Linked DNA regions of Homo sapiens: regions 1, 2, 4, 5 and 6 are each reported to be linked to region 3. The links are microRNA targets in miRTarBase. Many come from high-throughput screens and were not tested one by one. Region 3 holds a microRNA gene; each other region holds the end of a gene's coding sequence.
Evidence for each region. Region 3 holds the annotated microRNA hsa-miR-224-3p (AAAAUGGUGCCCUAGUGACUACA, at 2,346-2,368, shown strand). A microRNA usually pairs through its seed, bases 2 to 8, with sites in the 3' UTR of a target mRNA and lowers its output. Matches are read on the target gene's strand: a 7mer-m8 pairs with bases 2 to 8, a 7mer-A1 pairs with bases 2 to 7 and ends in A, and an 8mer does both.

Region 1 (5,547 bases), not on the chromosome of region 3:
GGGAGGCCAAGGCGGGCAGATCACTTGAGGTCAGGAGTTCAAGACCAGCCTGACCAAAATGGTGAAACCCCGTTTCTACTAAAAATACAAAAATTAGCCAGGCGTGGTGGCAGGCGCCTGTAATCCCAGCTACTTGGGAGGCTAGGGCAGGAGAATAGCTTGAACCTGGGAGGTGGAGGTTGCAATGAGCTGAGATTGCGCCATTGCACTCCAGCCTGGGTGACAGAGGGAGACTCAGCCTCAAAAAAAAAAAAAGAAAGAAAGAAAAAGAGCGGTGAGAGGAAAGACAGGCGAGCAGCTCAGGGTGGCTCCTTCGTGGCTTCACCACGGGAAGTTTGCATTGTTTTGCAAGGAGCAGTAGAGACATTGTTGAAGGTATTTGAGTGGATGAAGAGTGATTCGAGTTGTGCTTTAGGTAGATTAGCTTGGCAGCAGCAGGTGGGTGAATCGGAGTGAGGAGATGGTGAGATGGTCAAAGCGAGAGGGAAGGGCCTTTCCTTTCCGGGCCGTCCTGATGGAATTTAGGTGAGGGGTGGGTCACCCAACCTGCCTGTGGTCTGGTGGCTAATGTGAGCACCTCCCTCCCAGCCCTACCTTCACAGGCGGTAGTTTCCCTGTTTCTGGTCCGTGCTCCTCCAGCTGGGCCTTCTTCCCCTGACCTTGCTGATCCTTGGTGACCACCTCCGAATGTCAGAATCCACATCGTTAGGCTCACAATGTGGGCTGCTTTTGCCCCAGTGGGTCCAGTTGCCCCAACACGCTGTGTAGTGCTGACCAGTGTTTACGTGTGGGGTCGGCTCCATTCCTCGCTTTCTCCCGAAACAGATGTCAATGCCAATCGCATCATCCCGAGGAGACGTGGAGAGTGTCCGCCGCTGCCTGGCTCACAGCCTCTTCATGAGCACCGCCGAGCTTCAGCCAGATGGCACCTATGCCACCACGGACACCCACCAGCCAGTGGCCATCCACCCGTCGTCTGTCCTCTTCCACTGCAAGCCGGCCTGCGTCGTGTACACTGAGCTGCTCTACACCAACAAGTGCTACATGCGGGACCTCTGCGTCATAGATGCACAGTGGCTGTACGAGGCTGCCCCTGAGTACTTTAGGAGGAAGCTGAGAACCGCCAGAAACTGAGCCGCCCCAGGATGCCGCCAGAATCACTGGTCCCTGGGAGCTTGGACTACAGTTGTCCTTACAGCAGGCTTCCAGGTTGGCGCTTAGAGAAGCCTTGGAATCAGCTGAAGGTGCCTGACTTCCAGGAGCGTGAAAGCATCTTTGCTCAACTCCTGGGACTGAACCATATAGACATGGACATATCATTTGTACCTGGAAACCTCAAAATTATGCTTTTGGTTCTTACTGGGTGACTTTGACTTAATTTAACACCTGAGCCTCAGTTTTCTCATCTGCCAAATGGGAGTAATAATAATAATCCTTATAAAATTGGGTTCATAAAGTTTAGAGAAAAGGAATGGAAAGTACCCAGAACTATGCCTGGAGCACGCACGACACACGTACAGTGAGTTGGGAGCCGTTAGGCTGAATGTTACTGCTTGCCATATGATGTGAAGTACAGCAATATCCCAAGTTCTTGTGACTGAGGGAGATTTTCTGGAAGGGCCACAGGAGGTTGCGGAGCTTGGATGTTGCCCTTAGTTCTTGTTTAATGTCTCTCTGAATGCAGTTTTAAAATAGAAAACAAAACTGACTTCTGTAGAAGTTTCCAGAGGGAGGTGCTGTTATCTCGTACCTCCTGGGATGGCGATCCCTACTGAACGCTTGTGTCTCAGGGTGGACCACTCTGTGTCTGTCTCCAAGCAGAGACCAGTAAAGGAGCCTCCTGGTCCTCAGTGCGTGACCCTGTCAGTGCTTTCAGGAGACATGTAAGCTTCCTGGGTGAAGGTTGATTTGTACCTTCTGAATCCTGTCACGTGTAGACATGGGAAACTGACCTATCAGTGTTTTGTGTGTGTAGGTGACTCCCACATACACAGTTGCCATTTTTCTCTCTAACTGGGCACCAGTGAACATGCGGGCATGAGGAGTGACTGTGTACCATTTCAGCTGTTTCTTTTCGGGCAGTCCCCTGGTCAGAGGGGGTGGGGGTGGGGGAGGGGAGAGGGGTACCTAGAACCCAGAGAACATTGGCTTATGCCAGATACCACACCACATCTGGGCTTACATTCTTGTATCTTTTTTGGTGTGTGGGCGGGGGGGGTGGGGGGCAGTTCAGTGAAGTCTAGAAGACCTGCTGGACAAATTCTAAAAGAGCTAGAGCTGTAACACTTATTCTTGCATCTTATTAATTTTCTATGATATTTTTTCCTTCTTCGTAGGGACTTGGGACAATCTGGCTTTGCTGCTTTCTAACTGCTAGGCACCTCTCTCTAACCCTCATTGTCAGAGGGAATTGGAGGATATCCACAGTCTGTTCCTGTTCTGATATTCTGAGCAGAGAAAAGGCACTAACGGTTCCTCTTAGCTATTTAATTATCAGAAGCAAGTAATCTTTCCCCAGATAATATTTTGCCCTAGAAGAAGCCGTGATTTAGCTCTTTTATTGTGCTTACTTGGTCCAAATACATCTGTGGGGTGTTTTGTCATTTCTTAATGAATGAATCATAGTTATAACCAGGGGCCAAGCTGCCCAAGAGGCTCTTCAGAGATCATGGATGCTCTCTTTCTGGAAGCTGTGGCCTGATGGAGCAGCCCCATTCCAGGGTCCCATCTGTCCGGAGTTGTGTATGTCAAGTCCGGCTCAGTCTTTATTTCCAACACTAGCCGTGGTCCTGTGCAGTCAAGCTCTCAGCTAGTGTTTAGGGCTGTCTGTCAGAAATGGTTATACGTGGGCAAAAGAAGATCTGACAGCTCCTATATACCTTATCTTACTGAATTCTTAAACTTTGAACCAGTTCTTCCACTTACTGACTTGTTACCACTGCTGACTTTCTGAAAAGTTTTCCAGTTTTTGTTTTTTGTTTTTTGTTTTCCAGTAGGGGATTAGAATGTTTAGTCCTACTTAGTAAGAAAAATATTGTATTTTTAATCATTCATAGTGCTGGTAAAAAAAAAAAAAAAAAAAAAAAAATTGGGGGGTGGCCGGGCGCAGTGGCTCACACCTGTAATCCCAGCACTTTGGGAGGCCAAGGCGGGCGGATCACCTCATGCCTGTAATCCCAGCATTGGGATGGGAGGCTGAGGTGGGTGGATTGCTTGAGAAGTTCAAGACCAGCCTGGCCAACATGGCAAAACCCCGTCTCTACTAAAAATAGAAAACTTAGCTGGGCATGGTGGCACACGCCTGTAATCCCAGCTACCGGGGAGGCTGAGGCACAAGAATTGCTTGAACTTGGGAGGCAGAGTTTGTAGTGAGCCAAGATCACGCCACTGCATTCCAGCCTGGCCGACAGTGTGAGACGGTCTCAGAAAAAAAAAGAAAGAAAGAAAGAAAAAGAAAAAACTTGGGGTAATTTATGTCCAGCTTAAGTACCTGAACAGTTTCCGGAAATGTATATTTTTTTTCTGAGAGGCAAAGGATGTAAACAGCTTCTAAGTAGCTTTAATGTTTCTGTACAGAAATAAGTTTATCCCTGTAACATTGTGGTAGAGTTTTAATACAGTATTTAGTTTTTTATTGGGCTTTTTTAAAAAGTTAACTTTTAACATAGCTGCTCAGGGATTAAATCAGATTGGAAAACCCATTCTGACTCCACATACTGCTACAAAGAAATACATCGTTGTTTATATTGAGCTGCAGGAGATAGTACACTTTAAACTTAAGAAAGTTAAATGTTTCACAATAACATTGCAATATAATCTTCAGCTACTCTCTTTCCATTGGTAAAATCTCTGATGGTGTGATAACTCTTTGCCAACCTACGAAACCCATATCTGGAAGAATCACCAGCTCCCGTGAGCAGCTTCATGTAAATAGATGCACTCCAAGCAGATTGCATGCCTCAGGTGTTTGTCTTCTAGTAATCATGGAGTGTGCAACACCCAGAGTAACACTACAAGGGGCAGGACTGCAAACAGCAGGTCCTGGCTAAAAACCCTTAATGCTGCATTGCTGCCAGTTGTAAAGAGATGCCTGAATGGAGGCAAGTTCTGCCCTGTGGGTGAAACTGATGATGTACTGTACTGTCATATATAAATCCACTAAATCCAGCTACCAGGAACTGCCTGGAACTGTGGCCATGCATTTTTTTTTTTCTTTAAAGACCAGTGTGATAGTAGGCCATGCATCTGAGATACGATATTCCTTGGTAACTAGAGGGAGAAAAAAAAATCAAGTAGGTTCAGGCTTATGTTGTATTTTGAGAGTCTGGTTTTATTTGAACAGAAATAACTCTACAGAAAGCTCTTGTAAATAATGCTCAAATTTGCACCCGACGATCAAATCCATTAAAAATGAATCTTGTATATGATGTGTGTGGCTTGTTTCTTGCATCTCTTTTCCATTATTCATAGAAAATTATTTAGAAAATATTAAGTGTTAGTCTTACCATGAGTTAGTAAGACATACCTTCTTAGTAGCTTATATGTCCTGTATATCCTGGGAAGGTAGGATTGTTGATTTTTAATAAATCTGAACCCTGTCTTTGGGTTATATTAATTTACTGGAGAAACTCACAGAACTCAGGGAAACACATTTACCGGTTTCATACAAAAGATATGACCAAGGATACAGATAAGGAGATGAGCAGGGTGGGGAATGGGGAAGAAGCTCCCAGCCTCCATGCCGTCCCTGGACCACCACCCTCCAGGAACCTCCATGTATTTAGCTATCAGAGGCTCTCCAAACCCTGTCCTCGGGTTTTTATGGAAGCCTCTGGACTTATCTAAATGATATAAGCTGGCTTCTTGTCCCCAGAAAAATGATGTTCCATTAGAACTTGGATGCAAGGTTGGAGGTGCAGAGAGGGAAGGTCACAAAAATTAATCATGGATCCTGCCCTTGAGGATGTCACAGTCTGGTTGGGTTTAACCTGGTTAAAGCAGCAACGCTAGGAGGTTCCTGTTGAAAAGAGAATGAAGCATATGGGCTGGGTGCGCACAAGCATGAGTTCCGAGCCGGTGGAAAAAAAGGTTCTAGAAGGCCTCTTTCAGGAAAACCCTCAGACTTTCCTTTGCTCTCACAACACAACAATCAACACAGAAGACTTATGTGGCCAAAGGTTTGGGTTTTTCCCCTCCACACTAAGCAGCAGACACCAGCTGGGTGTCCTCCAATTCAATCCCAACAGTATCTACCTGGAGATAGTGTCAGATCCCATAGGTTGAGGGCTCAGTCCCCAAGACCGCCCCCACCTTCAGACAGCAATGGCAAGTCTGGGCCTCTGAAACTTCCGACCAACCCGCTTCAAGTTGGGGTTCCCACGACCCCCCTCTTTGGATTATGTTAACTCACTGGAGCAGTTCACAGAACTCAGGGAAACACATTCACCGGTTTCATATAAAGGATATGACCAAGGATACAGATGAGATGAGCAGGGTGGGGAATGGGGAAGAAGCTCCGAGGTTCCTTGCCTACCCTGGGCCACCACC
Region 2 (5,547 bases), not on the chromosome of region 3:
TTCTTAAGAGACAAAACATGGGATGCAACTATTATGCCGTCCATAGTAGCCTTTACCTGTTTCTCTAACCTGTAACTCTGCTAGTCCTTTCTCTTTCCACTTGATCCTGATAACTTTCTCAGTCACTGGTGATCAGATGTTTAGGTATGTTCTTCTCTCCCTTTCTTTGACTAGTCTGCTACTCCTCATCCTTCAAATCTAGCTCAATTACCCCTTTCAGTTAAGTCTCCCCTGATCATTTTAACTAGGGTATACACTCAGTCATGGCTTTAATATCTGCCATCAACCACATTGCTCCATCATGGCATCTGCTACACTTTGGTGTCATCAGTCTTTGATTAGACAGTTCAATGAAAGCAGAAACCACAGTAATTTTTGTCACCACTAAATGCCTAGTGCTTGGCATGATGCTGGGCAAAGGATACCCTAATTTGCTGAATAAAGCCTTAGTTTAGTTGCTTAATACAGTGTGTCTCCCTATTAAACACAGTACTTAAAATTGGTATTTCCAAATAAGCATTAATACACAAATGCCTTTGCTAGATGATCAGGAACAAACTGCTGATCTTCCACTGCCTCTACTCAAAACAGCCGTACTGCTTATGTAACTGGATTAAGCTTCAGAACAGCTTGTTAAAAGTAGGATATTAGTAGCAGAAGCTGAGAAGTGTATTAGATGAGGCTATCAGATTGCTTTTATAAACCTTTTCCTCTCTTCACACCAGTAGCACTTCTTCACCTACAGCTTTTGCTGGATGGTTTTTAACAACTTAAGCAGACTGCGTTCAAGGACAGTGAGAAAACCAGACTTTCATATTATTTAATCTAGTGTAATTTTAAACATTCACTAGTCTTTTGCAGTATTTTTGTAGGATTCAAAATGGAAAAAGGTATGAAGATGAGCCTTAACAATTTACTTTCGTTTTCCTGAGGGGTCTTCCTCCCCGTTAACTCCATAAAAAGGACAAGATCAAGGGCAATACTGATTCTGTGAAATCTAACTTATAATCAACTAAAATTTAGAATGCTTAAAAACAACCCAAGTGGAATGCAGATTCAGGAGCTTAAACATAAAATGAAGGGTTTGAATTCGGCACTTATCTGCATTCCACTTCCTCTAGTTATATGACGGAAAATATAATGAACAAATGTCCTAAAACACTTAGGAAGCTGACTGCTCAACTAGTTGTTAACTCATCACCTCAGTTAATGAACCTTCTGAGAATAAGCACACATTCTATGTCTCCTTTAAGTGGAAAAGTCTCCCACGTAAGAGCTGCATATAAAAGGAGACAAAAGAACTGTAGAAGCTAACTGATTAGAAATACTTAAAGGATATTTGTTTTAATATCAAGGTACAATGATTGAAAAAAAACTTTTCCATATTTTTTAGGAATTATTAGGATCTGGAAATAAAACTGCCCTAATCAAGGTAATCAATAACATTCTACCTTTTTAAGTTTTAAAAAAGAAGTTTCATATCCACATGAGATGATTTATATTATGCATATACAAAAGTATTTTGTATGTGAGCTTGCTACACCAAGAGGCTACAGTGACATGTGTGACAATCATTTCCTTGAAACTCTGCTAAAATATGCATTTGACCAAACAAAAGGCCTTCTGCAGCTAGGACAAGCAATCACATATTATACAGAATGCTTAGAACCAAGATTCAGATCTTAATGAGACTTATTGAAAAGTTCTCTGCCCCATAATGAGGCACCCCTTTAAAAATATGGTCTGAGTAGAGACATAAAAGATATACATTTAAACTGTGATGGTAAAATAACCAAAAAAAGAAAAATTATAGTTCAAAAAAAGGAACAATTCTTTGAAAAAACATACATAGAAACAGTCAAACTATGAACACCTTTACACATTCACAACATCTGCACTAATGCATAGAAGTTCAAAACCTAGAAGGCATTTTCTCCCCCATCCCTTCTCTGAAACTGATTCAGAGGTCACTGTGTGAAGAACTTACTTCAGTCCTGATTGTAAATGTCATGAAATTATTTTCTACACAGATAGCAAATTTAGTTTTATATAGGACTGCAAGCATACATCATCTAGGGATTACCCAGTAAACCACAAATATTTTATCCATTCCCCTAAGATACAGGTAACATATGGTTGTGGTACATCCCAGGCAGATGTCATTTAAAGCACGCAAGGGGAGGTGCTAGCAAAAAAATACTCATTTGCCAAAGTAACAGGTTAACCCTTCCAATATGATGTACCACAACCACACATGAGAAAAGTCAAGAACTTATTTTATTTTATTTTAAAATAAACATTGAAGATCCCCCATTTCCCACCACCCTACAAAACTTTTGAATGTGGAATGTTCAACAGCCTATCCATTTTGGTAGGTTACAAAACCAGCAAAAACTCCAGTTGTCTAATGATGAATGTTTGAGAATAGTTTTGTTTTTAAATAGCTGAGCACCTACTGGAAGAATTCCTGGGCTAAATGCTGAAAATAAAATTTAATTTCTGCACAGAAAATACCATTAACTTAGTAGCCTTTGCTTAAAGGTGGGATTAATTCTCCATGAAGTCAGAATGAGACAATAAGCAGCATTAACTTCCTAGGCACACAGAACTAGTGCTCAAACTGCTAGCACAAATTCCAACAGAGTACATAAGGCTAAGTCACTACTCAAGTGTCCATTTCCATCAAATTTAGAGACTCTCCCTATGCATCTAAGGGAAGGAATTATCACTGAATATAAATGCCTCCAGGAGAAACGGAGAATTCAGTTAAGGTTAAATTAGACAAAAGATAATAAGTGCAAGTACTAGAGAAATGTTGCTGGAGATAAACCATAAAATTTGTGACACTAACGTGGCATGGGGTGAATCACATAAGCTGCTAGCTGTTGAACACCAGTGTTTCAAGATACAACTTTTATAAACGTTTTATTTGTTTTGCTTATACCATCAGAACTGAAACTACTGTCCGTGATTTCCCTGAAACAGGGAAATCAATCTAAAACACATACTGGTGCCTTTCAAAAGATAGCAATTGAAAAGGGTGGTAGCAGCAGGCATTTGGTATCTTTTCCTTTTAAAAAAAAGCTTTCAAGCTGAAGGAAAAACATGTGACCGAGAGTGTTATGATTATCCACTAGAGATTTTCATCAGTACCTGTACCAATTTAGGTGACAATACAGCAAAATCCAAGGATTAGTGACAGACAATGTACATGTCATAAGGAATGATAGATAGTACCAATCCTTACAAAAGTCATTGTCTCAAAGAAACTGTTAAGTGTTCAAAAAGGTATCTAAATATTTCACATTAAGTACAGAAGCGGCCATCCGGATTACATCCCATATTTGTTGCATATTTTTCAAAAAGTGCCAATCAAAGCCTAATTTTGCATCTTGGCTTTGTCTTATACAGTATCAGCTGTTAAAAAGCATTTTACATGTGTTTTTAACCACAGTTGTTTGGCCAGATGAACAGTGCTGTGTCAAAGCTGGTAGCCAGCCTTATATGTGTGATTAGGACCCATGCATAATTTGGTATGCATCTGAACGTTCAGTGCTCCAATTTAACTGGAAAAGCTGTGAAATGCAGTTGTTCTGCCAAACCACACTCCACTCCTTTCATCTTCCTTTCTAGGGAAATAATTTAGTTTGTCAGTTATCATTGAATAACTCGAGGGCTGATTTGTAGATTTTATCCAATGTCATAAAAGTCAATCTTGCCTTTTTCAAGCCACTTCAAATAACTATGGAGATTATTATCACCCTGTAAAGTATATTGTTTTACTCCTAAGCAAGGGTGAGGAATCTGAGTATCATGTGCAAGGCTCAAGATGACGCTTAGGACAGAACATGCAGAGTAAAAATAGTTTCCTTCCATATCCAGGTAATAGAAAGCTGACAATTGTAGTCCTGTCTTTATGGGATGAAAACAGTCCCTTTACAATAAGTTTCCTGAAAGGGAGAACAAATAGATAATAACTCTTCTGGTAACATATTATGGTACACTGGCCAGTGTGTTTTTGGCGATTAAACATAATCCTGTGAATCAGATTAATTCACTTGCTGAGTGTTCATTTGCGGCATCCCTCTGTTGGGTCTTGGGGGCCCTCCACGACCTAGAAGACAAAAATGGCATTTGATTTTTCTTTCAAATATTATTTGTTTTGCCTTCAAGCAGATTTTCATCTGAAGTCAAGAAGCATGTGGGCAGCCTGTCACCACATTATTAGGCTTAAGAGGTCAATTCTTCAGTGTTCAAGTTTCCCCTGTCCTGGAAGTTGTCATGCGCAAATTTGCTCATGTTCTCTTAGCTAAAAGAAGAGTAAAGCTAATGGAGTATTCCACCAGTACTCATTCATTCATTCATTCAACAAATATTTATTGAGTGCCTACTATGTGCCAGGCACCATCATCAAGCGTTGGGAATAGATACAGCAGAGAAGACAGACAAGGTACCTGCTCTCATGGAGCTTACATTCTAGTGTACACTCTAGCTTACATTTCAGTAGTAAGTAACATCATACTATCAAAATTAATAAAAGCACCAGAATGAAAACAGACCTTATTACCTAAACTGTTAAAAAGAAACTACATAACATTCAAAACTGTATAATGACTTTTAACAGATAAAATAACTTTTTACATGCTGTTAAAACAGATTTTTAGCTATCAGTTAACTCAACTTTCATCGAATATGCTACAAGGTGGGAAAGAACATAACCCACATTCACATGCAAACATCCTTTGATACTTCTAGTCAAGTCAGTAATTCCCAAGTGATCCATTAATTTTTAGAAAAATGTACCTTTTTCCTGGCCAGTTTCTACTAGTATTCAAATCAAAGTACGTTGTAATTCCTCCTTAACACACATTTTATACATGTTATGGCCAATAGAGGAAACCTGTTTGATGTTTAACCTCCCTCAAATCAGAGAACCATTTAGAATTTCAGACTACATGAAATGCTAGCTCTAATTGTTAAATAGGTTAACTTCCTGCCAAAATGGGAAGTAGTTTTCCAACAGTAAAAGAAAAACAAAAAACTCTCTAAACCTGTAATTTTTTTTAAGTATAGCTCAATAAGTTAGGAATTTGGGAGTTTTGTTTAAAAGTCAGAAATAACTTGATATTTATATCACTAATAGAGGTCCAAAAGGCATTGCAAATTCCATTAGTTCTATCACTTCTAAATGGTTCTCTAAATGTTAACTATGGCTTATCCGGCCATTAAAGGGTGTCTGGCCCTAAAATATAATAGGCATGTTTCAAAAAAATGAAAGAGGAATAATAAATTTATATAAATGTTCAATCTCATTCCAAAAATGTCTTACAAAAATGTTTCAGTAAGTACTTCCTAAAAACATTTAGCAGGTTTTAGGACCTGAAAAATAATTTTCAGTTGGAAAAACACTTTTTCTGAGAAGAGAATATGTTCTAGTTTTCAAGACAGTTTATATAGTAACAGGGAAAATTAAATCATTCAAAAATTAAAATTTGGGTCCAAGATTAAGTTTTAGAAACAGAGCATTTCATTTAATCCCTAGCAACA
Region 3 (4,000 bases):
TCCTCCAAACCTCTACCACCAAAACAAGTGTGTTGCTTCTGGGTTCCCATCTGTCTCATTGAAGAGGACCATCACTCACCCAGTTGCGCAAATCAAGAACTTTGATGTTCCCTCTCCCTCACCTCCTGCATCTAATCAATCAGCACATCCTGTTGGTGTTTCCTCCCAGTCTCTATCGATGCTGTCTATTTCTCTGCACCCTGTACAGCTTTGACTTCCACCTGCATTAATTTAATTCTGCCTGGATTACTACACTGGCCTCCTTGACAACATGTTGTCCTCACAGAAGGACCAGAGTGACCTAGCTGAAGGGTCACCTAGGTTGGGTCACTTCTTAGTCTCGAATCTGCCGTTAACTCTCATGGATCAATTTGAAATTCCTTAGAATGAACCTCAAGGCCATTCATGAACTGGACCCTGCCACCCAATCCTGTGCACCTCATCCTCTGTGAGCTAGCCATCCTGAACTTTTGTCCTTTCCACAATACACCAGGTGTTTCACCTTTCTATACTGCCCCTTAACCCCTTCAACCTCATTCTTATTGAGAATATTTACTTGAGTTTCAAGATTTAATGGGAATATCACCTGCTTTATGAAGTCTTTTCTGAGTATGTCCCCAAGTGACCTTTATCTACTTTGTTTCCCCGCTGTTCTGTGGACATAGGTTTTTCAGAGCTCCTCCAAAAATCACAGTAGTATACTCACTGTCTTATAAAATTAAATGTGATTGCTTGAGGGTAGGGTTCATGCCTTGCTCATCTCTGTATTTCTGGCCTAGGGCCTGATACTGAGGAATGCTCAGTAAACGCACTCATTGAATGGACTTCAACAATGAGGTAAGAGAGGCAAGGTCCCACAGCTGGTGAGGCCAGAGACAGGACTCCAAGGCATTGTGCAGGCTGACTTCATGCTATTGGAGACCTCAGGTGGGCTTCCAAGTCTCATAAGACCCTCTTTCTCACATTCCTTTCCAGTTTCCTATCCTGAGAATGAGATGATCTACAAGTGGGAAAATTTCAAGCTTGAAATCAATGAGAAGAACTCCTGGAAGCTCTTCCAGTTTGATTTTACAGGAGTGAGCAACAAAACTGAAATAATCACAACCCCAGTTGGTAAGCGTGCCAGGGCTTGGCGGAAGTCCAGGAAGGTGGTAGGGATGATTGGAGATGGCCATCCATACAAATGCTTTGCAGTCATCCCGTGCAAACATTGTAAGACATGGCTCCTGTCTTATAATTGCTAAGCACTTACAACTGTTTGCAGAGGAAACTGAGACTTTGTAACTATGTCTCAGTCTCATCTGCAAAGAAGTAAGTGCTTTGCCAAGCTCCTTGAGAGGTTAGGTAAGTAGATAAAGTTCTGCTGCTGTCGGAATGTGCAGCTGGCTTTTTCATGCAGACCCTTCAGTTTCGAGGTTACAACTCTGACCTCTTTGGATGACTTTGGGGAATGGAGCTCGTGTGAGTTCTCCATACCCAGAACCAATCCAGTCTGGTTGAATGGGAAGCAAAGTCCATTGTAGTGGGAGGTGGAGGCTAGAGTTCTAATGTCAGCTAGTTTAAGGCTGGGAAAGTCTGGAGGAAGTTACAGCAGCTACACTGGCTGCTGCATTGACATTTATCTTAAAGGAACAAGTCTGAAAAGCACAGATTCTTATCAAAGGCTTCATGGTGGATTCCACATAGACATAGTGGCCACTGGTTTTCTGACCTTTTCTCTGACAAAGACTAAAGGGGAAGGTCCTGGGTATCTTACACTTCAGCTCCCAATTAGATGTGAGCACCTTCACTTATGTTCCTAGGTGACCTGAATGAGGAGCCAAGGGACCTCCCCAGGGTAGCTCCCAGAGCAACCCTGGAAACACTCTTCACACATCCTGACCAAGTTCAGGGCAGTGAAGGCACTGCCCTCATCGTTTCCAGAATGTGGATGGAGCCAGTCACCCAACCAGCCATTTGTCGTGAGAGGCATCTTGTTCTGCTACCATGTGACTAGGCAGAAAATCTGCTTTTGTTTCATTTATTGAGTCAGTCTCTGGATGAGGGAAAGCTCATGCTCATGTGGCTAGAGCTTTGCTTGCACAGTATTAGGCAGGGGCAGAGGGCTGGGCTACCTTAAAAATACTTGCCCTTTTTCTTGGGGACTCTGGGGAAGCGGTTTTACTACCTTTGACTTGGGAGCCTTGCTCTTCTGCCAGCTAACCATGGGCCTGCCTCTTGGTTTTCTGCACCTCAGCTTTTCCCGGATAGGTGGGGACCCATCATCAAAAGTGACAGAGAAGATAAGGCCCAGGGGCTTTCAAGTCACTAGTGGTTCCGTTTAGTAGATGATTGTGCATTGTTTCAAAATGGTGCCCTAGTGACTACAAAGCCCCAGAGCCAGCATCATCATCAAAGCAATGACAGTAGGTAAGCACCAGACCTCCTTGGGAGTGAGGAGGATTCTTGAGGAGAAAAGAGGTCTTCTTTCTCCTCTGCTGGAGACTAGTTGATCTGGAGACGTGGTTCCTTCAATGTCAGAGTTATCTTTGGGACTGGTCTCAAACTCTTCCAGTTGGGCCCTGGGGCAGGTCTCTCCATCTGGAGCATACTTACGTGCTCGGCGATTAAGGGTTCAGAATGCAGTGGTAGCCTGCTACTCTGGCCATCTTGGACCTTGATCCAGAGAATCTCTGCTTCAGGAGCTTCTAAGAGAGTCCAGCCCTGCCTCCAGAGAGAGGCTTGCCCTTCACTGATGGCTGTGGAGCCTCTGATGGAATATTATTGCTGGTCAGGAATTCACTGTCTTACAAGGAGGTTTCCTTCTTCTCTAGACAGTTCTGTTCATCAAAAAACTCTCCCTGTTCTTCTGAAATTGGAGTCTCTGGAAGTTCCACACATTAAGCTTAGTTCTTTTTCCTTGGAACTGTCCAGGTTACATTAGTCCAGCCACTGTTTCACAGGACCGAGATTAAACGATCAACATCATCATTCCCGGCATGGATCATAGTCTGTTGTAGTCTACATAGCCCTAGTTTATTTTTCTTCCCTTATTCTTCAAAGCTTTGGGTCCATTCATTCTTCTAGTCCCAGTCCTCTGGACATGGTCTATTTAATTGTGTCCCTCTGACACTGCAGTGACCAACCATGATCTGGTCAAAGAGGATAAGAGTTTGAGCAGAAAACCATCTTTAGCATATATTTTTTTGCTTTGGTTCATCAGCCCCAGATATATTGTTTTCCTTACCCGTGCTTCTCTCACTCCTCAAGAAGAAGAAAGTGTGTGTTAGCATCTTTCTCTTGTCCTTCAAGACAAATTGGCATCTCTTGACGAGCGGAGAAGGTTCTTTTTTGGCCAGAATAAATAAAATTAAAATAGAATCATCCAACAGAATAATAAATCTTCGTGCAACAAGAATATATTATATAAACCCAGCAATTTTGCAGGGCCTGGGTATAACTAATTAGAAGTGTCTTAAATTGCAGTCAAGATCCCACGGCAAGAGGACTTTTGATAAATACATTCTGGCCAGTAGGCAAGTGCGAGGGTGGTCCGTGCAGCAGCTCTGGAGGAGTTCTATCCCAAAGCTATACTCAACACACAGGTTTCCCACTGACAACAGGTCGCTCCCTTGCCTTCTTCCAGAAGAATCTGAGAAGCTTTGCTCCTTGAGTTTCAGTGCTGCCAAGGTGAGTACGAAAGGCTGCTCTTCTCATTCAGCTCCAGCCCACCCAGACCTGCTGGGCAGTTGATCCACTTTCCAAAATAGGAGGACACACGGACAGGTTAGTGTTCTGGTCTGCTTTACAAAGCTGTTGCCTGACAGGAGCAAGAGTTGCTGAGTGTCTGCTGGGTTCCAGGCTGTTCTGAGCTTGGATGGGCAGGGGCTAAGCCACAGGGCCTGCATGAGCCCTGCCTTGAAGGGACTTAAAAGACGACCTAATTATAGGCCTAGGAATTTTACAGTATTGCAACTGCAATGTGATGCTGAAAGTGGAAAATGATGTCCTGGGCTCAGAG
Region 4 (5,547 bases), not on the chromosome of region 3:
TATGCACACATCGAGGCTTACACATAAACATATTCTATACTTAGACATTAAGTTTAGTATGTTTAGAATTTTACCTTGACTATACACTTGATCTGAAAAAAAAGAGAATGCCATATGTAAACACAATTGTATATCTTCTTAAAAACAATTGGCTTTATTTTGAAAATATTGATGATTGCATAATTAAGCTCCTTGAAGGATGGGACAACATCTTTTTCAATGTTTAACACCAAGTGCTTTAGAATTTTTAAATGCCTGATACATAAGTTTGCTCAATAATCAACTGTTAAATAACAGATTAGTAAAAAATGGTCCACATTCTACAATTAGCTGTCTATTTTGTATACATGGAAGATGTAGTGACATAATGTTAAATGCTATAGGTACCATTTTTCTTTTATTTCCACTTAAGTTTGGGACACAATGAATTGTGAATTGCTATCTATTCTACTTCTATTTCTTTGCAAGTGTGAATTCCCTCTCATCTCGGATAACTTACTGCTTAAATCGTAGGAATTGTTTCTTAATTTCACATGTGAGTGTAGTTATTTTACAAGCTCTTTTCTACTTGTCTTAACATGGAAGTGATATTAAAATTGCATTTGTACGTGCATTGTGTTGATGTCTTATTTTATTAGTTAAAATAATAACCCAATGGCTTTAGTTTTATTGACGTAGTCACTAGATTTGCTCAAAAGAATCAAACTAAATTCCATGTATAGGCAAGACCTACCAACAAAATGTAGTAATAAAAACATTCTTTTATTCTCTAGAAGCATTCAAAGAAAATTTTGTCACTACTTTGGAAAGTAAAGTTGTATCTAGTTGTCTCCAGACAATTGGCATGTATTTGAATATATAATACTTTAAAACTACAAATTTAAATCTCCGGACGTTTTGTTTTACTTTTCTAATTATTTTACATGGGTGAGTATTAACCTTCATTTACATAAATCCATCACATTTGGCGCCAAGCTTGCTTCAGTAGCATAAACATGGGAGAGATGTGAGCGGTGTTTATGTAATAGACTACTCTTATACCTCAGAGGATGCTGGCTTCTGCGATTGAAATAAATGCAGATTTTTATATTTTCTTTTCATCAATTCTAAAGAAATTTATATCTTCTCTGCTAAGGAGTGTTTCACATATAAAAGCATCTTGTGACATCCAATAAAATTCTGTTTCTATGAAATTTGCTGTGAAAGGACCATTTTTCATAAGTATGAGCTCTTTCAACCTGATAACCAGGCCATGATATGATTTGTTCTTTGGCACTGCTAGAAATATGAGCTTTATCATGGCATAGTGTTCTGGCTATCTGTAGGCTATATTCTGACCAAATTAATATATTGAAGTATCCCAGTTGATTACTTTCAGAGAGTCAGCTTATTTTTCTCTACATACTAATGATCTCCTTTTCTCCATTTAGAGAAACACTACACAAAAAGGAAATTGATCATGGAATGATTATTGCCACAGTGGACAATCGTATAGGCACAGAATAACAGTTCTTGAGTCAAATCTCAGTGAAGCCACTTTTCCAGATCTTTCAGTCACTTTCCACTTAAGTAGAGATTTGCGGAAATAAATGAAAATGGTTGCCTAAGGTCAAATTTTCAAACAAGTTACCGCCTCAGAAAATAATGCATTTGAAAAAGGAGTGCATGAAACCTGGCCCTAGCATAAGTTTGATAGAACAAACAGGAATGGTTTAATCCAACACAGATCATTTTAGTACTTTTGTTTCCTTCTTGACAAATGGCCAACATTAAATAAACTTTCTGCCTAAATCAGAGTGATATGGGAAAGATACGCATCTGAAAAACACACTTGCATCTCCCCACAGAAAGATGTTCCCTAAATATAAATTTTAAGGGAGGGTTAATCATCACCATACTGAGCCTGAATATATACGTAATCATAGACATGCTGAGAATTAGTATCTTGTGTCTGACTGATAGGCTTGAGTATATGTGGTCATAATAACTTAAATCAGGATAACAACTTGGGTCATAAACACATTTTATTTCCATTCTGATTTTATCTAAACACATTTTCATCACCCTTAGATTTGTGCTTCATAGATTATTTGGTTTGAAACATAATCTATAGCTGGTGAAACATGCTGGCGGGTTTTATTTAAGCTACTTAAGATCCCTTCCTAATTTCCTGCATTTGTGATCCCGGTTTTCTACCACCTCAATTATACAAGCAGAACCTGCAACTTCAGTAAGCGTTTTATGTATACAGTTCTCCCACTGAGTATTCGTTCATGTACACACACACTCACACACACACACATGCACGCACGCTCACAGACACACCAACCATACACTGCTCCCACTTACCTTTTTCCTTATTTTTTCAGAATTTGAATTGGACATCAAAATACACATTAATTATAAAACATTAGAAAATCATGTTATAACATTGAAAAGGCTTTTGAAAGAAACTATTACTGATAAAGCATTACTAGGTTTGTAGCAATATAGATTACAAAGATTCTCTAACTCCTGTTATATTTGGTTTTATTGAGCAGCACTGAACTATTGCTGTCAATACCCTTACAAGAAAAACTGCTATAACAATAACTTCAAAAACACATCTTTTCTCTCAGAAATATAATACTAAATTGATTGTTAACAAAGAACCACATACTATCAATTTTAGGAGGCATAAATAGTAATTTAAATATACAAAATATATGCGATAGTTTCTTTTTTATTCATTCGTGGCAATATTTATATTCAACTAACAAGTTCTTCTTAAAAGATATATATGATTTTTTTAACTTAAATTTCACCACTACATAAAATTGAATCCACCCCATCCCTCATCCCCTGCATTTCCTGTCTCTTTCTTGAAACAAAATGAAATGAAACATGATCATAATTCTTTGGTCATGGTGTCATAATCAGTAAGAATGGGTGTGATGATCACATACAGAAGATTATGACCCAGAAATGTGGTGATAACCAGTTTGAAAAAATTAACAAGAAATACATATTTTATTAATAGATCTAAACTTTTAGAAAGATTGGCATTTAGTGTATTAAAATATGTAAACTGGTCTAGTTGAATGTTTATTTCTCATTTTCTTGGGGAAACAAGCATACACATGAAAAGTTACTTAAATATAGTGATTATGGTGGCTACAATGCCACTGGTCCCACTTTCTTGAAAGCAGTCATGCTCTTGAGCTATTAATTCCTTGTTCCTTCCATTGTCACAGTGAACCCTGGTCTCCTCCAATCAGATCAATGATGCAAGGACACATGTCCCTAAAGTCATTTCTGAAGGAAATGTTTTCTGCTGGGATGTCCAATATATCCTAGTAACTTTCTCTGGAGTCTGACTAACCATTGCTTAGTTATTACTAAGTCAGACTAATGGTTAGCCTAACCATTGCCAGAGGATGCTAAAGAGAAATTCTTATAAAGCCAATGTAGCAAAAATATTGTTGTCAATGTAACTTGGACGTCCAAATTAAGCATCACATTTGCATTCATTTCCTGTCAAACCCTTGAAACTTAAAAAGCACAGATGCTCTTAACAAATATGATATTCAACTTCTACGTTACTAGCACCAGATCATATATTACGTGATTGAACATGATTTATAGTTGTGAGCTCTTGTACAGAAACCAAATGTGGGCAAGGGAAAAAAAACATTTTAAATGCAAAAATTAATAATAAAAGGCATCAAGGGATTACATATAAAAGAGATAACAAACCAGTTAATACTGAAATTATATCATATAGTAAACTCTTGATATTTCTGTAATTTATATACGTATAATGTGTATTATTTCAGATGTCACCCATAAACTAGTAAAATATTTACATTTTAATATCTTCTGGATTCAAAATAATCCGGGATAAATAAGTGTGCCTTCATTGCAAGGACATATGCATTTTATCTTGAACTTGCCACGAATAGGCACAGCTTCCCGTGGCATTCCACTCCCACAGAAAAGATATGTAACAGTTCATTATCATATGACCGAGTCGACCTCCCTCTTCATATTAAGAAATGTAGAGCTCACACCATCCTGCACACACTCATATGGCAGTATCCCAGAATACCGTTTGCTGTTTAGAATACGGTGGAGGGCTGTACTTCTTGGCACCTGCATTCTTCTTCCAGCTGGGCAAGATAGGCATGCTATCCTGTTTGCAAAGGCCCTTTTCCGTTTTCTGTCTAGCCTTTATTTCCTTGCACAAGCAACGCTTTTTCTCAATCATCTCAAGCATTGTATGGTCTCCATGAAACCACTGCATGCATGCCACCTAGCAAAAAAGAAAGAGTGAATACAGAAGAAAAAAATGGAATGAAAGCATATTTCTTTTGCACTGTGCTAGTAGTTTCTTAGAACAATGTCAGCTGTTTCTATATCTCTTCTAAAATTCTTTTTAGTTTTGTCTTGTTTTAGACAAGGTCTCACCCTCACCCAGGCTAAGAATACGATGATGCAATCACAGCTCACAGCAGCCTCAACCTCCTGGGCTCAAGTGATCCTCCCACCTCAGTCTCCCCAGTAGTTGGGACTACAAGCATATACCACCATGCCCAGCTAATTTTTTAAAAAAAATTTTGGTAGAGATGAGGTCTCTCTATATTGCCCAGTGTGGTCTCAAACTCATGGGTTCAAGCAATTCTCCCGCCTCAGCCTCCCAAAGTGCTGGGACTACAGATGTGAGCTACTATGCCCAGTCCAAAAACTCTGAAGATAAATTAAGAAATAATTCTTACAAAACAAAAATAAAAGAATGGAAACTATAAACAAATTTTGTACTTAAATTAGTAAACATCGCGATATTTAACAATTTGGGCATGAATATTTTTCAATATGTTCTGAAAGTTCATGATATGAAAATTAAATCTTTTACACTTTTAAGCAATTTTCCAAATATTTACCTGTAACTTTATGTTGGCTCCATTGTCTTATTTGTGCCCATATTTTTAAATTCAATTATTGGAATTACTTTTCAGTGAGGTCTAATATTAATGTGATATGTTTTAAAGATTTGAATGAATGTTTTTTTATTCTTGAAATAATTTTAAACAGGTTTATTTATAAACAGAATGTAGTAGAATATTTTTAATAATTCATCTCATCAAAATGATTTTAAGTGCACACCATATGCTTAGAATGTAAATGCTTAAATATTTCTTCTGCTAAGAAGTTTTTGCTATAGTTTTTGATGCTTCGGCAAATGTCTACATTAGAACCATTGGTCCCTGTAGTCAGACTGACAAGGATTCTAATCAACTTCAAAAATTTAGAAAAATGGATTCATGAGGTCAGTTTGGTTACCAGAAGAAAGCTCGGTGTGGACTATATATTGATACATACATACACATATGTACATATTACTGGACAAGTAACCACTGCTTCCAGGTATATGTGGCACCATGTCTACCAGTAACTGTTCTTTGGAACAGAGCTAGCATGTTGCGTCTGTCACACAAGGGCGGCAATAAAATTGGGCCCATGAGCTCAGCTAGGTTGTGGAAGCTTCCACATAATTGTTTAAACAAATCT
Region 5 (5,547 bases), not on the chromosome of region 3:
AGAATCCAGGACAACCCCAGGTGTCAGGCTGGGGCAGCTAGGTAGGTGCTATTGCCATATAAAGTGTTAAAAAAGAATAGAGAAGGGGCTAGTTGTCGGGGGAAGGAGTTCAGTTTTAGACATGTTGAACTGCAAGGAGATTTGATACTATAATTAAGGAATGTGTTTTAATAAATTTAATAAACAATGAACACACATTATTCGCATTTCCCAAACAATTTGGATGGTAGATCAAAAAGAATGAGAGTGAAAATAAGGGGTCTGTGACCACTCAATTAAGATTGAGCTAAGAGCAAGGTCAAGTTCAAACCCACTATAAGCTTCTTGCATCCATGGTCACTGACTGTTTTCTTACTGTTAGCTGTCCTGTTGGACAGTGTAACAGTGAGAGAGCATATACAGATTAGCATTGAAAAGGATAAAGTGACATGTGTAAGGGTTTTGAAAAAGTATTATACAAATGCAAGGCAGATATATTGAAATAAATGCTTATTGGCAAAATTTCAGGCCAGATAGGTTGGAGTAGTGCTTCACAAACTATAATGTGCACATGAACAACTCAGGGATTTTGTTCAAGTGTTGATTTCAATTCTGTAGCTGGAGTTGGGTGGGGTAGAAAGGATATCTGAGATCCTGCATTTCTAATAAGCTCCCAGGTAATGTTGAGTCTGTAGGTCCTTGAACCACACTTTAAGTATTAAAGGGTTAGAAAGCTTATACTGTAACTGAGAAAAAAACATATATTTCTTTCCCATGTTGTATTCAATATTTCTTGAATGAGTGTAGCTAAATGAGCAATTCGATGCAATACAAAATGTTATGCAAGTGTAGAGACAGACAGTTCACTAGGTACTTTAAAATAATAGACCTTACAAAGTTTTCTAGACAGACTTCCTGTGAAGAACAAGGAGCAGGGGGAAAGGGGAAGGGGTAGAATTTACCAATCTGAATATTTCAGCAAGGGAGAATGCATGAGTTTTACTATAAAACCACACTGAACATTGCAACAATACTAAATTCCATACATATATAATAATCACTGAGCTATAAGGTTGCTGATGTATTTGTTCTTGAAAGTGAATTAGAGTTACTTTATGCAGAATCAGCTAGTTTTATGTTTCATAATGTCTTTCCCTTTTTTGAACTTTTTTTTAAGTCTAAAGTAGGGGGAACCAAGCCTGCTGGTGGTGATTTTGGAGAAGTCTTGAATTCGGCTGCAAATGCTAGTGCCACCACCACGGAGCCTCTTCCAGAAAAGACACAGGAGAGCCTGTGAGATTCCTACCTTTGTTCTGCTACCCACTGCCAGATGCTGCAAGCGAGGTCCAAGCACATCTTGTCAACATGCATTGCCATGAATTTCTACCAGATGTGCTTTTATTTAGCTTTACATATTCCTTTGACCAAATAGTTTGTGGGTTAAACAAAATGAAAATATCTTCACCTCTATTCTTGGGAAACACCCTTTAGTGTACATTTATGTTCCTTTATTTAGGAAACACCATTATAAAAACACTTATAGTAAATGGGGACATTCACTATAATGATCTAAGAAGCTACAGATTGTCATAGTTGTTTTCCTGCTTTACAAAATTGCTCCAGATCTGGAATGCCAGTTTGACCTTTGTCTTCTATAATATTTCCTTTTTTTCCCCTCTTTGAATCTCTGTATATTTGATTCTTAACTAAAATTGTTCTCTTAAATATTCTGAATCCTGGTAATTAAAAGTTTGGGTGTATTTTCTTTACCTCCAAGGAAAGAACTACTAGCTACAAAAAATATTTTGGAATAAGCATTGTTTTGGTATAAGGTACATATTTTGGTTGAAGACACCAGACTGAAGTAAACAGCTGTGCATCCAATTTATTATAGTTTTGTAAGTAACAATATGTAATCAAACTTCTAGGTGACTTGAGAGTGGAACCTCCTATATCATTATTTAGCACCGTTTGTGACAGTAACCATTTCAGTGTATTGTTTATTATACCACTTATATCAACTTATTTTTCACCAGGTTAAAATTTTAATTTCTACAAAATAACATTCTGAATCAAGCACACTGTATGTTCAGTAGGTTGAACTATGAACACTGTCATCAATGTTCAGTTCAAAAGCCTGAAAGTTTAGATCTAGAAGCTGGTAAAAATGACAATATCAATCACATTAGGGGAACCATTGTTGTCTTCACTTAATCCATTTAGCACTATTTAAAATAAGCACACCAAGTTATATGACTAATATAACTTGAAAATTTTTTATACTGAGGGGTTGGTGATAACTCTTGAGGATGTAATGCATTAATAAAAATCAACTCATCATTTTCTACTTGTTTTCAATGTGTTGGAAACTGTAAAATGATACTGTAGAACCTGTCTCCTACTTTGAAAACTGAATGTCAGGGCTGAGTGAATCAAAGTGTCTAGACATATTTGCATAGAGGCCAAGGTATTCTATTCTAATAACTGCTTACTCAACACTACCACCTTTTCCTTATACTGTATATGATTATGGCCTACAATGTTGTATTTGTTATTTATTAAATTGTGATTGTTTTATTATTGTTTATGCCAAATGTTAACTGCCAAGCTTGGAGTGACCTAAAGCATTTTTTAAAAGCATGGCTAGATTTACTTCAGTATAAATTATCTTATGAAAACCAAATTTTAAAAGCCACAGGTGTTGATTGTTATAAAATAACATGCTGCCATTCTTGATTGCTAGAGTTTTTGTTAGTACTTTGGATGCAATTAAAACTATGTGCTATCACATGTGAAAAGCTTAATAAATTCCATCTATCAGTAGTATAGGTCTCAATATTTATTATGAGACCAGTGGTCTGGAAACAGCTTGTTGTACCGAATCAACTGGAGTCTATGCTTAAAAAAAAAAAATTTTTTTTTAACCATCCTTAAATTATTGCTTAATGGTATCATATTAACATATTCTAAATAAGGGCTTTAAGGCACAGGCTGTTGAAGCATTTTCTCAGAGGAGTGGATCTGTAGAAGTCTGTCTTTCTATAGAAATATTGTGCTTACTCAAGTGTTAAATTATTTTTTCTATGAACTAGTCTACTTCTTAAAATTCAAACATATTCTTTTGATCACATTGTTTCTTGAGCATCCTGCCCTGCTACTAACTTTTCAACAAGGCAAAATGGAGTAAAGTGGCAATTTCTTTAGATGAGTGAAATACCCTCAAGTCTCTTTTCTGCCCAAAAAGGGAAAAGTGATAGAAATGGGGGTGGCAAGTGGGGTGAGTGGATGAAGGTGGGTATTGGGGGTGGCTGTGAAAGAAAATAATGGAGAATCACTTTTCTAGACATCTACCTATACTTAATCTAAGAAACAAAGTAATCTACTGTAAAGTACTCTGCCCCTTGAAAGAAGTATTAAAAAGAGTGAGGATGGATTTAGAAAAAAACATGAATTTAGAAATATTCAAAATGGTTTTTGTGGCAGATTCAATATTATGAATTCACAGATATTTAAAGAATGAGAAACATAGTAATTAGTAGAAATGCCAGAAACAGTTCCTGGTTCCTCTTGTGTTTGACACTAAGAAAATAGCAAGAGTGTGAAATCTCAGATACTTATGAAATCTCACAGATGTAAGGACTCAAGTGTAGAAGAAAATATCCCCTTCTTACAAAAAGAAATGTCAATTTATGGAGTTTGTGGGAAATAGGGCAAGAATTCTTATGCTTATGAGAGCCAAGTAGTCAGTGGAAGAGAGTAGAGCTCAAAACTGGATTATCACCTTAGCAACTTAGAATAGTTTGAAATAGAAAAAAAGTATTTAATTTGGATCTGGATCTGTTAAGATATGCACAGTCTATTTTTTGTATAGTATTGGAAAATAAAAATGCTATAATTTGGGTATGGGTTCTTTTGTATACATTACCTGCCCATTGAGGAAAGGGGCAAGTCCATTATGCAACTTCTCTCCAAACCCTTCATATTCTGGATATGATACTTAAAGAGCCATGAGCAGCTACATTCTGCCTATCAGAAGGCATTTATTAAATGACTGCTTGCTGAAGATGTGTCCAAAGAGATCCTACATTAAGGTCATTTGTCAGAATGATGTTTGTGTTTGTTTAGAGTTGGCTGACCTCCAACTCCTGGGGTCAAGGAATCCTACTGCCTTAGCTTCCCAAATAGCTAGGACTATAGGCATGCACCCGGCCATGTGTTTTATTTATAGCTCTTAAAGCCCAGATGAAGAAATCACATTTTTGCCCATAGTGAAGAAACATTTGGCCATTGATTAGTCCTTATTTTCAGTGACTGTCCTGTTTTCATTAGATTAGAGAGACCCTGTGTGGGCCACAGTTAATATAAACCATTATCACTTTTAAGTAAACCTGCACATCTTAGATTTCATAATTTCCTTATTGTTCTGACTCAAAATGAACTAAGAGCTTTTCACTTTTTGTTTGTAAGTTCTCAGAGAGTCGGGTCTGCAAGTGCTTTTGCCTGCCAGGATTTTGTACTCAAATAAATGCTATTTGGCAACTAAAATTCTTGCCAGCTCTCATGTAATTTTGATGTTACTGAGGTTGGTTGGTAGTTTATTTTATTAATTTTGTGGTTCTTCTATCATATAGAAAAAGCCAAATACAGTTTTGTTTGAATATTTGTAAATGGACGTGATCTTTCACTTTACCACTCTCCAGCATGCTTTAAAGTTTCTCCTTGGTTTCTAGAATTGATTCTCTGTTCTTATTTTCCATTTTGACTATTTTTTAGTATTAGAATTCTTCCAGCTCCTAAATGCTATTGTCTATCTGTTGTTATCTTCTACATGATCCCCTTAATGATCTTATCCATTTCTATGGGTGAAATGACTATTTTTAGAGTGATACTAATAGCTTCCCAACCGGTATCTCCAGACTTGTTGATGGTGGTGGCCCTCCTTGAGCAGCTGCTGCAAGGACACCAGCTGCAGCAAGGGAAGCATGGCTGGGGGGTTGCAGGCTCTGCAGAAGTGGCAGGGGCCGGCAATAGGTGATCCCAGCAGGAACCCTGCCTTACCATGTTGGCAGGGCAGGAGCTTGTGCTCCTGGGTGCAGCTGCAGCCACCCAGCTGCAGCTCCAGATCCAGGCATCTGTGTGCTCTCGGGGGCCTGGAAAGTCCCCTGCCCATGCAGGCCTGGAAGTGCCTGCTCCAGTTCGGAGCAAAGTTGTGGCTGAGCTTGGGTGCTGTCACAACCTGGCCAGGTGTGTGCATCCTCAGGGTGGTGCTGACATGTCAGGTTCCTGCTACCTCGGCCCCCTCCCAACTATGGGCACCAGTGAGCATGGGAGGGTGGCCAGGGGCTGAGGGTAGCTTGGTGTGGACAGCCTGGGTGCTCTGGATGGCATGTTGATGGTGGCAGGAGGCAGGTTCCTAGGAGGGAAGGGGTGGGTCCCTGTTGAAACCCCACCCTCAAGCCAGGGACAGCCTGAAGCCTGGGGGCCAGGCTGCCAGTTTTAGGTAGAGCCCACAACCCAGAGCGAGAACTCTATTAATGCATTTCGGCTAATCGGATGGTGTTTTTTCCA
Region 6 (5,497 bases), not on the chromosome of region 3:
ACTAGCGCGGCGCCGCCAGCCGGGAGCCAGCGAGCCGAGGGCCAGGAAGGCGGGACACGACCCCGGCGCGCCCTAGCCACCCGGGTTCTCCCCGCCGCCCGCGCTTCATGAATCGCAAGTTTCCGCGGCGGCGGCGGCTGCGGTACGCAGAACAGGAGCCGGGGGAGCGGGCCGAAAGCGGCTTGGGCTCGACGGAGGGCACCCGCGCAGAGGTCTCCCTGGCCGCAGGGGGAGCCGCCGCCGGCCGTGCCCCTGGCAGCCCCAGCGGAGCGGCGCCAAGAGAGGAGCCGAGAAAGTATGGCTGAGGAGGAGGCGCCTAAGAAGTCCCGGGCCGCCGGCGGTGGCGCGAGCTGGGAACTTTGTGCCGGGGCGCTCTCGGCCCGGCTGGCGGAGGAGGGCAGCGGGGACGCCGGTGGCCGCCGCCGCCCGCCAGTTGACCCCCGGCGATTGGCGCGCCAGCTGCTGCTGCTGCTTTGGCTGCTGGAGGCTCCGCTGCTGCTGGGGGTCCGGGCCCAGGCGGCGGGCCAGGGGCCAGGCCAGGGGCCCGGGCCGGGGCAGCAACCGCCGCCGCCGCCTCAGCAGCAACAGAGCGGGCAGCAGTACAACGGCGAGCGGGGCATCTCCGTCCCGGACCACGGCTATTGCCAGCCCATCTCCATCCCGCTGTGCACGGACATCGCGTACAACCAGACCATCATGCCCAACCTGCTGGGCCACACGAACCAGGAGGACGCGGGCCTGGAGGTGCACCAGTTCTACCCTCTAGTGAAAGTGCAGTGTTCCGCTGAGCTCAAGTTCTTCCTGTGCTCCATGTACGCGCCCGTGTGCACCGTGCTAGAGCAGGCGCTGCCGCCCTGCCGCTCCCTGTGCGAGCGCGCGCGCCAGGGCTGCGAGGCGCTCATGAACAAGTTCGGCTTCCAGTGGCCAGACACGCTCAAGTGTGAGAAGTTCCCGGTGCACGGCGCCGGCGAGCTGTGCGTGGGCCAGAACACGTCCGACAAGGGCACCCCGACGCCCTCGCTGCTTCCAGAGTTCTGGACCAGCAACCCTCAGCACGGCGGCGGAGGGCACCGTGGCGGCTTCCCGGGGGGCGCCGGCGCGTCGGAGCGAGGCAAGTTCTCCTGCCCGCGCGCCCTCAAGGTGCCCTCCTACCTCAACTACCACTTCCTGGGGGAGAAGGACTGCGGCGCACCTTGTGAGCCGACCAAGGTGTATGGGCTCATGTACTTCGGGCCCGAGGAGCTGCGCTTCTCGCGCACCTGGATTGGCATTTGGTCAGTGCTGTGCTGCGCCTCCACGCTCTTCACGGTGCTTACGTACCTGGTGGACATGCGGCGCTTCAGCTACCCGGAGCGGCCCATCATCTTCTTGTCCGGCTGTTACACGGCCGTGGCCGTGGCCTACATCGCCGGCTTCCTCCTGGAAGACCGAGTGGTGTGTAATGACAAGTTCGCCGAGGACGGGGCACGCACTGTGGCGCAGGGCACCAAGAAGGAGGGCTGCACCATCCTCTTCATGATGCTCTACTTCTTCAGCATGGCCAGCTCCATCTGGTGGGTGATCCTGTCGCTCACCTGGTTCCTGGCGGCTGGCATGAAGTGGGGCCACGAGGCCATCGAAGCCAACTCACAGTATTTTCACCTGGCCGCCTGGGCTGTGCCGGCCATCAAGACCATCACCATCCTGGCGCTGGGCCAGGTGGACGGCGATGTGCTGAGCGGAGTGTGCTTCGTGGGGCTTAACAACGTGGACGCGCTGCGTGGCTTCGTGCTGGCGCCCCTCTTCGTGTACCTGTTTATCGGCACGTCCTTTCTGCTGGCCGGCTTTGTGTCGCTCTTCCGCATCCGCACCATCATGAAGCACGATGGCACCAAGACCGAGAAGCTGGAGAAGCTCATGGTGCGCATTGGCGTCTTCAGCGTGCTGTACACTGTGCCAGCCACCATCGTCATCGCCTGCTACTTCTACGAGCAGGCCTTCCGGGACCAGTGGGAACGCAGCTGGGTGGCCCAGAGCTGCAAGAGCTACGCTATCCCCTGCCCTCACCTCCAGGCGGGCGGAGGCGCCCCGCCGCACCCGCCCATGAGCCCGGACTTCACGGTCTTCATGATTAAGTACCTTATGACGCTGATCGTGGGCATCACGTCGGGCTTCTGGATCTGGTCCGGCAAGACCCTCAACTCCTGGAGGAAGTTCTACACGAGGCTCACCAACAGCAAACAAGGGGAGACTACAGTCTGAGACCCGGGGCTCAGCCCATGCCCAGGCCTCGGCCGGGGCGCAGCGATCCCCCAAAGCCAGCGCCGTGGAGTTCGTGCCAATCCTGACATCTCGAGGTTTCCTCACTAGACAACTCTCTTTCGCAGGCTCCTTTGAACAACTCAGCTCCTGCAAAAGCTTCCGTCCCTGAGGCAAAAGGACACGAGGGCCCGACTGCCAGAGGGAGGATGGACAGACCTCTTGCCCTCACACTCTGGTACCAGGACTGTTCGCTTTTATGATTGTAAATAGCCTGTGTAAGATTTTTGTAAGTATATTTGTATTTAAATGACGACCGATCACGCGTTTTTCTTTTTCAAAAGTTTTTAATTATTTAGGGCGGTTTAACCATTTGAGGCTTTTCCTTCTTGCCCTTTTCGGAGTATTGCAAAGGAGCTAAAACTGGTGTGCAACCGCACAGCGCTCCTGGTCGTCCTCGCGCGCCTCTCCCTACCACGGGTGCTCGGGACGGCTGGGCGCCAGCTCCGGGGCGAGTTCAGCACTGCGGGGTGCGACTAGGGCTGCGCTGCCAGGGTCACTTCCCGCCTCCTCCTTTTGCCCCCTCCCCCTCCTTCTGTCCCCTCCCTTTCTTTCCTGGCTTGAGGTAGGGGCTCTTAAGGTACAGAACTCCACAAACCTTCCAAATCTGGAGGAGGGCCCCCATACATTACAATTCCTCCCTTGCTCGGCGGTGGATTGCGAAGGCCCGTCCCTTCGACTTCCTGAAGCTGGATTTTTAACTGTCCAGAACTTTCCTCCAACTTCATGGGGGCCCACGGGTGTGGGCGCTGGCAGTCTCAGCCTCCCTCCACGGTCACCTTCAACGCCCAGACACTCCCTTCTCCCACCTTAGTTGGTTACAGGGTGAGTGAGATAACCAATGCCAAACTTTTTGAAGTCTAATTTTTGAGGGGTGAGCTCATTTCATTCTCTAGTGTCTAAAACCTGGTATGGGTTTGGCCAGCGTCATGGAAAGATGTGGTTACTGAGATTTGGGAAGAAGCATGAAGCTTTGTGTGGGTTGGAAGAGACTGAAGATATGGGTTATAAAATGTTAATTCTAATTGCATACGGATGCCTGGCAACCTTGCCTTTGAGAATGAGACAGCCTGCGCTTAGATTTTACCGGTCTGTAAAATGGAAATGTTGAGGTCACCTGGAAAGCTTTGTTAAGGAGTTGATGTTTGCTTTCCTTAACAAGACAGCAAAACGTAAACAGAAATTGAAAACTTGAAGGATATTTCAGTGTCATGGACTTCCTCAAAATGAAGTGCTATTTTCTTATTTTTAATCAAATAACTAGACATATATCAGAAACTTTAAAATGTAAAAGTTGTACACTTTCAACATTTTATTACGATTATTATTCAGCAGCACATTCTGAGGGGGGAACAATTCACACCACCAATAATAACCTGGTAAGATTTCAGGAGGTAAAGAAGGTGGAATAATTGACGGGGAGATAGCGCCTGAAATAAACAAAATATGGGCATGCATGCTAAAGGGAAAATGTGTGCAGGTCTACTGCATTAAATCCTGTGTGCTCCTCTTTTGGATTTACAGAAATGTGTCAAATGTAAATCTTTCAAAGCCATTTAAAAATATTCACTTTAGTTCTCTGTGAAGAAGAGGAGAAAAGCAATCCTCCTGATTGTATTGTTTTAAACTTTAAGAATTTATCAAAATGCCGGTACTTAGGACCTAAATTTATCTATGTCTGTCATACGCTAAAATGATATTGGTCTTTGAATTTGGTATACATTTATTCTGTTCACTATCACAAAATCATCTATATTTATAGAGGAATAGAAGTTTATATATATATAATACCATATTTTTAATTTCACAAATAAAAAATTCAAAGTTTTGTACAAAATTATATGGATTTTGTGCCTGAAAATAATAGAGCTTGAGCTGTCTGAACTATTTTACATTTTATGGTGTCTCATAGCCAATCCCACAGTGTAAAAATTCAGGAATTCAATGAAAAAAGTCTACCCTTAAACCCTCAGATCAGTCTTTCCAAAGAATTACTCTGTTTGCATTGTTGTGATTGACATTTGTGAAGTCCCAAGAAAAGATCTGTTTTCATGACAGTAGAAAATAGAAGTTTGCAAATTATTTCTTTACTCAAAGAGGATTAAAAGAGAACTCTAATTTTAATATTAAAGCTTTCTTTTCTTTCAGGGAATAAATTTACATGACTTTTTATATTATGGAGGTTTATTTTTAAATCATCACCTTTCTCATATTTTTTAGAGGTATTGTCTTATCTCTTCCATAATCTTGGATATTACAAAACCCTAAATAGGCAATCAATAAATGGTTAACTGGCTATGTGTTCATAAACATTTTAAACAGCAATTGGGTTTGTAAGGCTGTTTTGTTGTTTGCTTCTGAAGACCCCTTTTTTTAATCGTTCAAGGAACCTTCTCCAGATAAATTATCTAGTTGGTCTACTCTTAGTCAGAATTTATGCATGGGTGTATATATGTGTATATATAGATAAGTATACACATAAGTATATATGCATTAATTTTTATAAAATAGAGATGTAAAGTTTACTTACATTTCATAATATGGAAATATGGTTATGAGAAATGGAAAATGCTAGATGGAAAACCTCAAATACCTTTACAGGTTAAAAATATCTTTACTAAATTTTCCCATGAAAACATTTTGTGATAAAATGACAAGGGACTAAAATGAAGATCATTGATACAATAGAGTTACTTTCCTTGTTACAATGCAATTGTCTTATAAGTCATTATTCATTTTAAGGAAAATCAAAAAAATTAGATCTTACTAAAAATGTAGCATTTGATTTTAAGTAGCAAGATGCAATTTTGTGTTCCCTTTTTCTTTGTTACATTAACATAATATAGTAGATAGAGGGTTTATTGTATAGACATACACAAAAAAATAGTATTCTTAGGCCAAATTCACACATATCTCCTCACTAAGTAGTTCAATTAGATAATTTCTGGAAAAACATGTTTTTGACATTAATTGCTATCCAAAACTATATTTTAAAGCAGTCTTATTGGAGGTGTCCTTAACATGATGTAACTATAAATTTGATGCAGAAAGGTTTTACATGCTGTGGTTAAATAGCTTTAGAAGACATTTTTAAGTCACCACCAGCCTTTATTCTTAGAAAACAATTTATTCTAAATGATGATGCATATAGAAAACCAGTGTATTCTTTTATTTCTTTTAATACTGGTGGCAAAATAGG

Region 1: miRTarBase lists DHX33 as a target of hsa-miR-224-3p. Seed matches in the 3' UTR shown: 7mer-m8 at 2,055-2,061.
Region 2: the mRNA of CAPRIN1 is a reported target of hsa-miR-224-3p. The part of its 3' UTR that is shown has no 7-base or 8-base seed match.
Region 4: miRTarBase lists NYAP2 as a target of hsa-miR-224-3p. Seed matches in the 3' UTR shown: 7mer-m8 at 1,594-1,600 and 7mer-m8 at 307-313.
Region 5: the mRNA of TPD52 is a reported target of hsa-miR-224-3p. Seed matches in the 3' UTR shown: 7mer-m8 at 1,962-1,968 and 7mer-A1 at 2,195-2,201.
Region 6: the mRNA of FZD1 is a reported target of hsa-miR-224-3p. Seed matches in the 3' UTR shown: 7mer-m8 at 2,607-2,613 and 7mer-A1 at 3,851-3,857.

What each region holds. Positions count from the first base shown.
Region 1 is chr17:5,439,792-5,445,338 of GRCh38, reverse strand. It overlaps DHX33 (DEAH-box helicase 33), which reads left to right. Exons shown (of 12, transcript NM_020162.4): 12 at 826-4,422. The coding sequence ends at 1,134. Among named protein-coding and RNA genes, the nearest start is that of C1QBP, 3.4 kb to the right of the region's middle.
Region 2 is chr11:34,097,870-34,103,416 of GRCh38, reverse strand. It overlaps CAPRIN1 (cell cycle associated protein 1), which reads right to left. Exons shown (of 19, transcript NM_005898.5): 19 at 807-4,114. The coding sequence ends at 4,050. Among named protein-coding and RNA genes, the nearest start is that of NAT10, 5.0 kb to the left of the region's middle.
Region 3 is chrX:151,956,952-151,960,951 of GRCh38, reverse strand. It overlaps MIR224 (microRNA 224), which reads left to right and starts at 2,294; the gene lies at 2,294-2,374. It overlaps GABRE (gamma-aminobutyric acid type A receptor subunit epsilon), which reads left to right. Exons shown (of 9, transcript NM_004961.4): 6 at 976-1,113. MIR452 (microRNA 452) reads left to right here and starts at 1,240; the gene lies at 1,240-1,324.
Region 4 is chr2:225,697,061-225,702,607 of GRCh38, reverse strand. It overlaps NYAP2 (neuronal tyrosine-phosphorylated phosphoinositide-3-kinase adaptor 2), which reads right to left. Exons shown (of 8, transcript NM_001371273.1): 8 at 1-4,291. The coding sequence ends at 4,064. The region is part of intron 5 of LOC105373914 (a long non-coding RNA gene); the gene reads left to right. Among named protein-coding and RNA genes, the nearest start is that of NYAP2, 300 kb to the right of the region's middle.
Region 5 is chr8:80,033,845-80,039,391 of GRCh38, reverse strand. It overlaps TPD52 (tumor protein D52), which reads left to right. Exons shown (of 8, transcript NM_001025253.3): 8 at 1,157-4,647. The coding sequence ends at 1,276. The region is part of intron 5 of TPD52-MRPS28 (TPD52-MRPS28 readthrough); the gene reads left to right. Among named protein-coding and RNA genes, the nearest start is that of MRPS28, 6.4 kb to the right of the region's middle. RefSeq lists an enhancer at 2,346-2,395.
Region 6 is chr7:91,264,584-91,270,080 of GRCh38, forward strand. FZD1 (frizzled class receptor 1) reads left to right here. Exons shown (of 1, transcript NM_003505.2): 1 at 1-5,497. The coding sequence starts at 298. The coding sequence ends at 2,241. Among named protein-coding and RNA genes, the nearest start is that of FZD1, 2.9 kb to the left of the region's middle. RefSeq lists silencers at 1-444, 535-594.